Homo sapiens: one gene and its partner. The protein of the gene in region 2 interacts with the protein of the main gene of each other region in a pairwise test. Each region holds a gene or a part of one and is shown on either strand. Other genes may lie near its edges.

The links.
Region 1: the proteins of TFF3 (region 2) and ZSCAN9 interact in a two-hybrid assay, tested with the Homo sapiens proteins (one study listed by BioGRID).

Annotation. Positions count from the first base shown.
Region 1 is NC_000006.12:28,223,662-28,227,411, reverse strand, and holds the start of ZSCAN9 (zinc finger and SCAN domain-containing protein 9), read right to left. Parts: upstream 2,138-3,750; 5' UTR 2,046-2,137; exon of another isoform or gene 1,729-2,045; coding exon of another isoform or gene 1,406-1,728; exon of another isoform or gene 481-1,405; coding exon of another isoform or gene 328-480; coding exon 1-327. UniProt on the Homo sapiens protein: May be involved in transcriptional regulation.
Region 2 is NC_000021.9:42,313,180-42,316,929, forward strand, and holds the start of TFF3 (trefoil factor 3 precursor), read right to left. Parts: upstream 2,231-3,750; 5' UTR 2,196-2,230; coding exon 2,114-2,195; intron 453-2,113; coding exon 306-452; intron 1-305. UniProt on the Homo sapiens protein: Involved in the maintenance and repair of the intestinal mucosa. Promotes the mobility of epithelial cells in healing processes (motogen).

The sequences.
Region 1 (3,750 bases), on a different chromosome or scaffold from region 2:
CTGGAGCTCCTTGGGCAGAATGGATAGAAACTGCTCCAGCACCAGCAGATCCAAAATCTGCTCCTTTGTGCTCACATGTGGCCTCAACCACTGGTAGCAAAGTTCCTGGAGTCGAGTAAGAGCCTCCCTTGGTCCAGGGGTCTCTTGGTAGCACAGCTGTCGAAAGTGCCTTCGGAAGATTTCCCTTGCCAGTGGATTACTGCGTTTCAGTCTGGATTCCTGCCATTGAAGGTGACTTTTTGCTTCCACTTTCATTGTCAGAAGTTCTTCCCATGCCTCGGGAACTTGAACACCCAGGGATAAAACCTCCTTTGAGTTTGTATTCATCTTGACCTTGAACAGCTTAAAAGGTACCCTCCAGCTGGAGCTATGCTTCAAGACAAACCTTGGAGGCGCTTGCCTAAGCAGTAAAAATAAATTATTTATATAGAAAAATGATAATAGCTGATGACAGAAACTGATAATACAAGCAATTATCATAGGCCCTAAAGCTCTTCTCTGAAAAGTGATTTGGTGACCAAAGGATGGAAATAATGGAAATATATATATTCATAATGTGCTAAGAGCATAAGCTTTTAAGTTACCCAGATATGGGTTTTCTTTCTTTCTTTTTTTTTTAAATGGGGAATTTCACTCTGTTTCCCAGGCTGGAGTGCAGTGGCATAATCACAGCTCACTGCAACCTCAAACTCCTGGGTTTAAGTGATCCTCCCACCTTGGCTTCCCAAAGTGCTGGGATTACGTCAGCCACCACAGCTGACCCAGACCTAGGTTTTATTCTGATCCTAATATTTACTAGTTGTGTGACCTTGTGCCAAGTTTTTAAATCTTCTTTCAATCTTGATTTCTTTATGTGAAGAAGAAATAGCAATAATGCTTCACAGAGTTCATGGAGGAAAACAGCCCATGAATTAGGGACTGCACCGATCACTCAGAAAGTCTGAATAAAAAGTTTGAACTCACTGTATAAACATCAACTTAGAGAAAGAATAAATGGAAATATTGTTACTGTCGACTAAATGAACGAACCAACATTTACTTTACTATTTACTTCAGTTTTCTTAATCTTCAAAACAACCATTTAAGGTTAGTATTATTTTCACTAAATTTACAGAAAGAAAGGCTTAGGTGGATTCCAAGTCCTGGAGCTTTCCACACCGCCCTGCTGCTACTGAAGAATAACAGTCAACACTGCACAAGTCTACAATATGCTTTCAGATACAAGACTATATTTCATCCTCACAATTACCCACTGAGGTTTTATTATAATAATTATTTCACTAGATAAGAAATGGAAGCCAGGGAAAGTTAAGTAGATTGCCCAAGGTCAACTTCTTTTTGAGGACAATCCTAAGAAGCCAAAGAAGCCCAAGGGAAAAGTTTTCTCCACAGACGCAGGAAGCACCTGAAACCCATGGGGGTGTTCCCAAAATGTGTGTCTCCAAAATGCCAGGAAGCACAGCGCAGCAGCTGAATTCCAGCTTGAAAGGCCCTATGGCAGACATCTGGGGAATCTGAATTGGGAGGTGGAGAGAAGTACAGGGAGACCCAGAATATGCCCTTTAACGGGCTCCTCAGTGATTTGTATGTATTATAAGGTTTGAGAATCAATGAACTAAGGAAAAGGGAATCGGGAACTGCTACATTCTGCGCTTGAAAACCAGTCCATTCAACGCCCCTTAATTTGCTTTCAGAATCTAGAGGTAAGAGGGTATACAGGTTCTCCATCGTGAAGGCTGCCAAAGTCTTAATTGTCCTTAACTTCCTCTCCCGGGTGTTTCTTTCCCTGAGTCCTAAGCCTGTTGTCGTTATTCACCGAGGTGACCCTTCAGCCTCGCAGTCCTCCTACAACCCTTTCTTGTACAATGTCCCCACAGCTGGGGATGACCACTCTGGTCTAGGGGACGCCCGAAGCCGCCCGGCACTGACCGCCGCCCCCTCCTCCGGCTCCCACTTCCCAGCGGCTGAGGTTCACTTTCCACACCCCTTTTCCAGCCCCACCCTCCCTGACCCGCCTCCATTCCCGGTCCCCACAGCCAACTCACGAGACCCGGAACGCGCAAGGAGGGAGAGGGGGTTACCGGCCCGGCGTTGCTAGAAGCGCGGCACGAACAATGGCCGGGCAGGGAACAAAGATGCCGACCTCTCCTCGAAGGCGGACGGAGCAGAGGCACTTCCGGGCCGGTCTAGGATTCCATGTCTCGATGTCCGGCGTTCACCTTGCTTCGGACTCAACCCCCAATTTCCTGGCGTCCAGTTCTTTTTCAGCAGTGAATCACATAATCAGAATGTCATACGTGTGTGGGCCGCACACAGGTTTTAAACGGAAAACGTTGATGAAGCATAGACCGTTAACTATTGAAAATGATGATTTTTAAAAGCATTTTTAAAATTAATACATTATTTATGGTTTAAAAACCCTCAGACAATACCAAAATTAATAAAGTAAAATGTCAAACCCCACCTACCCCTCCTTAGTCCCACTCCCCGAGGCAGCCACTGTCACCGTTAGCCTGGAATTTGTATATCATTGTGATCCTCTCTCACACACACAATGGCATTATTTTATATTTAGCCTTTTCTCCCCCGCTTATTTTAACGTTTTCACTTCATGTATCCTAAAAAGCTTTACTCATCATGTAAGTCTAACTTATTGTATGGGTGCATAACAGTCCATAAAGCAATTTATTTGTCCAGGCCCCTATGTATTCTTTATTTAGGCATCTGCCTGCGTGCTTGCCTTCTTTCCTCCCTCCCTTCCTCTTTTCCTACCTTCCTCCCTCCCTTCCTGCCTTTCTCCCATCCTCCTTTCCTTTTCTTTCTTTCTTGTTTTTGTTTTTTGTTGTTTTTTTTTTTTGCTGTAAAAGTTTTCTGGAGTTTTAGTAATAATAATACAAAATCAAACCAAAACCAATTAAATAAATTTGTCACCCAGGCTGGAGTGCAGTGGCACCATCATAGCTCACTGCAGACTGCAACTCCTGGCTCAAGCAATCCTGCCTCAGCCTCCTGAGTAGCTGGGACTACAGTCACATACCACCATGCCCAGCATTTTTTTTGGGGGAGGGGGGTAGAGACCAGGGTCTCGCTTTGTTGGCCAGGCTGGTCTCTAACTCCTGACCTCAAGTGATCCTCCCACCTCCGCCTGGCAAAGTGCTGGTACAGGCATGAGCCACCATGCCCAGCCTTAAATAAATTTTATTGGTACAAAAGAGCGTAATTGTAGGTACTGTTAGTCATTCATCAGTTTTACTATGCCAACCAGAATGATGGTGTCACGTAGATTAAACTATATTCTGTTTGTTTTAACAGAATCTTATCATTTATTTTATTAAAGCAGTAAGAAAGTATCTTGTGTGTTAATGGAGGCTCCATGATCTGTTTTAACTCCAAAACGGTAGTAGCTCGGAAAATTTCTTTATTATTTTCCTCAACCTAGCCTTCTGAGGGCATTAAATAAACCCAAGCTTTATGCTTTACTTCTTTTTCTTTCAAATATCCAATAAGTATATAATCAATAAGAGCACTAACATGCAGAAAATTTGCTCAAAAATCCTCATCACTTTTTCCACCATACCATGTTCACTTGCAAATCCCTCATTACAAACTTTCCTAACAAACTATGAAATGAGAGTAAATGCTCAATTTCTCTTGGACTTGAATAGACTGTTTAAATATGTTATTCTTTTCCATTTTGTATGACCATCTGTGACAAGTAAATGCAATTTAATATTTGTATGAAACTTCTTA
Region 2 (3,750 bases):
CCTATGCGTTTCCACTTCTCTCAAGAATAGTTACTAAATCAGTTCCCTCTATGCGATGCCATCATTTTGAACACCTTTTTGAAACAATTGCTTTTATGTTTTACATAAAGGGGACAGAAGAGGACAGCCCCTGGCCATGGCTGCCCTAAGTGTGAAGCCTCTGCTCTGAGGCCTTGGAACAGGTGTGTGTGTGTGGCTTCCTGGGGTCCTTGTGCCTCCATCTCCAGCCCAGAAAGGACAGGGAGGCCCTGAGACCCCCTGCCTTATGGGGCTGGGCCCAGACCACGATGCCACTGGGGCCTTACCTGCTTCCTGCAGGGGCTTGAAACACCAAGGCACTCCAGGGATCCTGGAGTCAAAGCAGCAGCCCCGGTTGTTGCACTCCTTGGGGGTGACATGGGGGTAGCCGCAGTCCACCCTGTCCTTGGCTGGCACGGCACACTGGTTTGCAGCTGTCCCAGACAAAGCCCTGTCAGCTGCCAGAGCCCTTGCTGGGCTGCGGTGAGTGTGTTTGCTTCACTTTGCAAGTTTGCATCCTCCCGCTCCGCCCCACCCCGCCGAGTTCAACCACTGCTGAAACCCTCGCCCTTAGGAAGATGCACTTTCCCTGTGAATATTTAAAGAGAGGCAGTCTGTTAAATGCTCAGCTCGGGGACTCTGGCCATTTGCCTAAGTGTCTTTCTCCTTGGCACGCTCTTATCACCTTCTCGGGAAGTCACATACGGACCTGGGTACCTTCCAGCTGGCAGGAACCCCTGGGGAATCTGGGGTCCCTTGAACCCAGAAACAAAGTTACCCTTCATTGTTTGACCAACAAAACCTTGCCCCTTTGTTTTAAATGAAAACCGTGACAGGAGAGGCACACGCCATAGAGATCATTGCAACGCATGCTGCCTGCTTTTCACTTTTTTCTGCATCTCCCCTTCCTGAATTGTTGAGCATGTCCCACCCTCCCGGGACATCCTTCAGTCCCCAATATTTTCATGTTTCAGGCAAGCCTCTATGTCTGTATGTGCAGCAGAAGTTCACTGCGTTTCATTAACGAACTGAGTATTTCCTTAGGAAAATGGCAATCACGTGCAGTGTCTTACATTCCCTTCTCTTGCTCCCAGTCCGTAATTGCTTATCCTCCTGGCATCCAAACTTCGCTCACACTGGAATCAGCTGCAGAGCTTTAAAAATGACTGACGTTGGCTGGGCATGGTGGCTTACACCTGTAATTCCAGCACTTTGGGAGGCCAAGGCAGGAGGATCACTTGAGGCCAGGAGTTTGAGACCAGCTTGGCCAACATAGCGAAACTCCATCTCTACTAAAAATCCAAAAAATTAGCTGGGCATGGTGGTGCATGCCTGTAATCCCAGCTACTTGAAGCCGAGGCACAAGAATTGCTTGAACCCAGGAGGCGGAGGTTGCAGTGAGCTGAGATTGTGCCACTGCACTCCAGCAGTGAGTGACAAAGCAAGGCTATCTCAAAACAAAACAGCTGAGGCCTGGATCTTGCCTGGAGATGCCCTGATGTAACTGGTGTGCCCCAAGCATTAGGATTTTTAAAGCTCTCCAGGTGATTCTAATGGGCTGCAAGTTCGGGAACCACTGCCTTTGACCCTGCTCAGAAGACACCCAGATAAAAGCCATGCCCTCATTCCTTCAAACTTGGGTTAATGGAGCAGCCACACCCCATGGCAGGGTTGCTATGCAATGGCTAAATGAACCTTGTGCCTGCCGGTATTGACAGTGTTCTGAAGTCAGGGTTTTTCTCCTGCATCTTTCCTTTTTCTTTGTAAATGTGGAACAATGCATAAAGACCTATATTGTAATTTAGAAATCTCCAGCAAAGATGGCTATGGGGTCATAGGGGATGGGCTCAGGCTCAAACCCTGATTTCAACACAGACTGGGCAGGGCTGCCTTGGATAAGTTGTTAACTTTCTCTGAGCCTCGGTTTCCTTGTCTGTGAAATGGGGACAATAAAGACCCACTTCAAAGGGCTAGCGCAGGAAAAAGTGTATATGTGACAGGTGGCCATTATTAAATGAATGCAGAATCCCCCCTTATCCTGGATCCCTTCCCTTCACGCCCACCCTGCCACCGGGGCAGTCAGGGCAGTACTCACACAGGCCCACGTACTCCTCAGCAGAGCTGGAGGACAGCAAGGCCAGGACCAGCCCCAGCATGCAGAGCGCTCTGGCAGCCATGACCACCGTGGGCTCCGGGACGCAGCTCAGGACTCGCTTCATGGTCCAGGAGGCCTCATTTATGCACCGTTGTTTGCACAGCTGCTCTGGATTGTTTGCTTGGGGAAGGCTCTCCCTCCTGGCTGTGGCTGCTCCTGTTCTCTCCTGCATGCCTTTGTCAAGCTCCCAGACAGTTTTTCTCTCCCAAAGGGGAGAGGTCAGTTCAGCCCCCACTGTTTTGGCAGCAAGCGGTAAGGGCGGATTCCAGTTCTGGTTCCGGGTCCTCTACTGGGGAGCGGATGTGTGTCAATTGCCCTCCTAGCCTGGCCTGGTGTAGTGTGCAGGAGCCATGTGGGGTGGCAGGACCAGGGTGTGGTGTCCGTTCCATCTCAGCCTCCCAGCCAGAAGCCCTCAGAACACCCCTGGTCCCATGACAAGAGAGCCCCAGGCTGCTTCATCCCAGATCGGCCTCGGAGACAGGCAGCTCTGAGTGAGTCAGGACCCTGCGGCTCTCTCACAACTCCTGAAACACAGAGATTCCTTGTCTTTCCTTTTTGCTTTCTCCCCTAAAAATTAGTAACTACATTTTAATAAGTGGATGAAATGAATTGATTGAAAATATGTTAGTAAAAACATGGTACACATAATTGATTTTTAAAATCAAATAATACAAAAGAGCCTTTCCTATCCAGAGGCATCTATTGATCTATTGTGAACACTTTTTTAGGTATCCTTTCAGAATTTTTCTCTCTGGATCTAAGCACGTTTTTTTGGTTTGTTTTTGTTTGTTTGTTTGTTTTGTTTTTTTTTTGTTTTTTTTTTGTTTTTTTTTTTTGGAGACAGGGTCTTGCTCTGTTACCCAGGCTGGAGTGCAGTGGCACAATCTCAACTCACTGAGACCCCCGCCCTCGCGGGGCTCAAGTGATCCTCCCACCTCAGCCTCCTAAGTAGCTGGGCCACAGGCATGTGTCCAGCTAATATTTTGTATTTTTTTAGAGACCAGGTGTCGCCATGTTGGCCAGGCTGGTCTCAGACTCCTGGACTCAAGTGATCTGCCTTCCTTGGCCTCCCAAAGTGTCAGGATTACAGGCATGAGCCACTGCACTCGGCCACATTTTTAACACAAACAGGAACTGACTCTCCACCTTTGCCCAGCGTGCTCTTTTAAAAACTAAAGACTACATCTCAGGAATTGTTTTATAACAACATATCAGATGAGACAGCGATGATTCTATCCATTTTCCAGAGGAAGAAACTAAGACTCAACATTTCCGGTGCCTATCAGAGGTTACTCCAGTGTCCCTGGTATAGCTGGTATTTAACCCACTCCCAGGACCCTAAGCCTCCGCCCTCGGCATCCGCAGCATCCCCCAACCCCCCAACCTCCTGCAGTGGACTGGCTGGTAGTGGGCAAGAGACTAATCTCATTCCAGGAAAACGGGCCCCTAGATTTTGTGTTCTCCGTGTTTCTTTTCCAGGGAGGCATTTTGATGACCCCCACTGGCCCTTCCAGGAGCCTCTGTCTGAAGGGTGGACTTGGTTTATCACCCCGAGAAATGGGAGCGCCTGGCTGCTT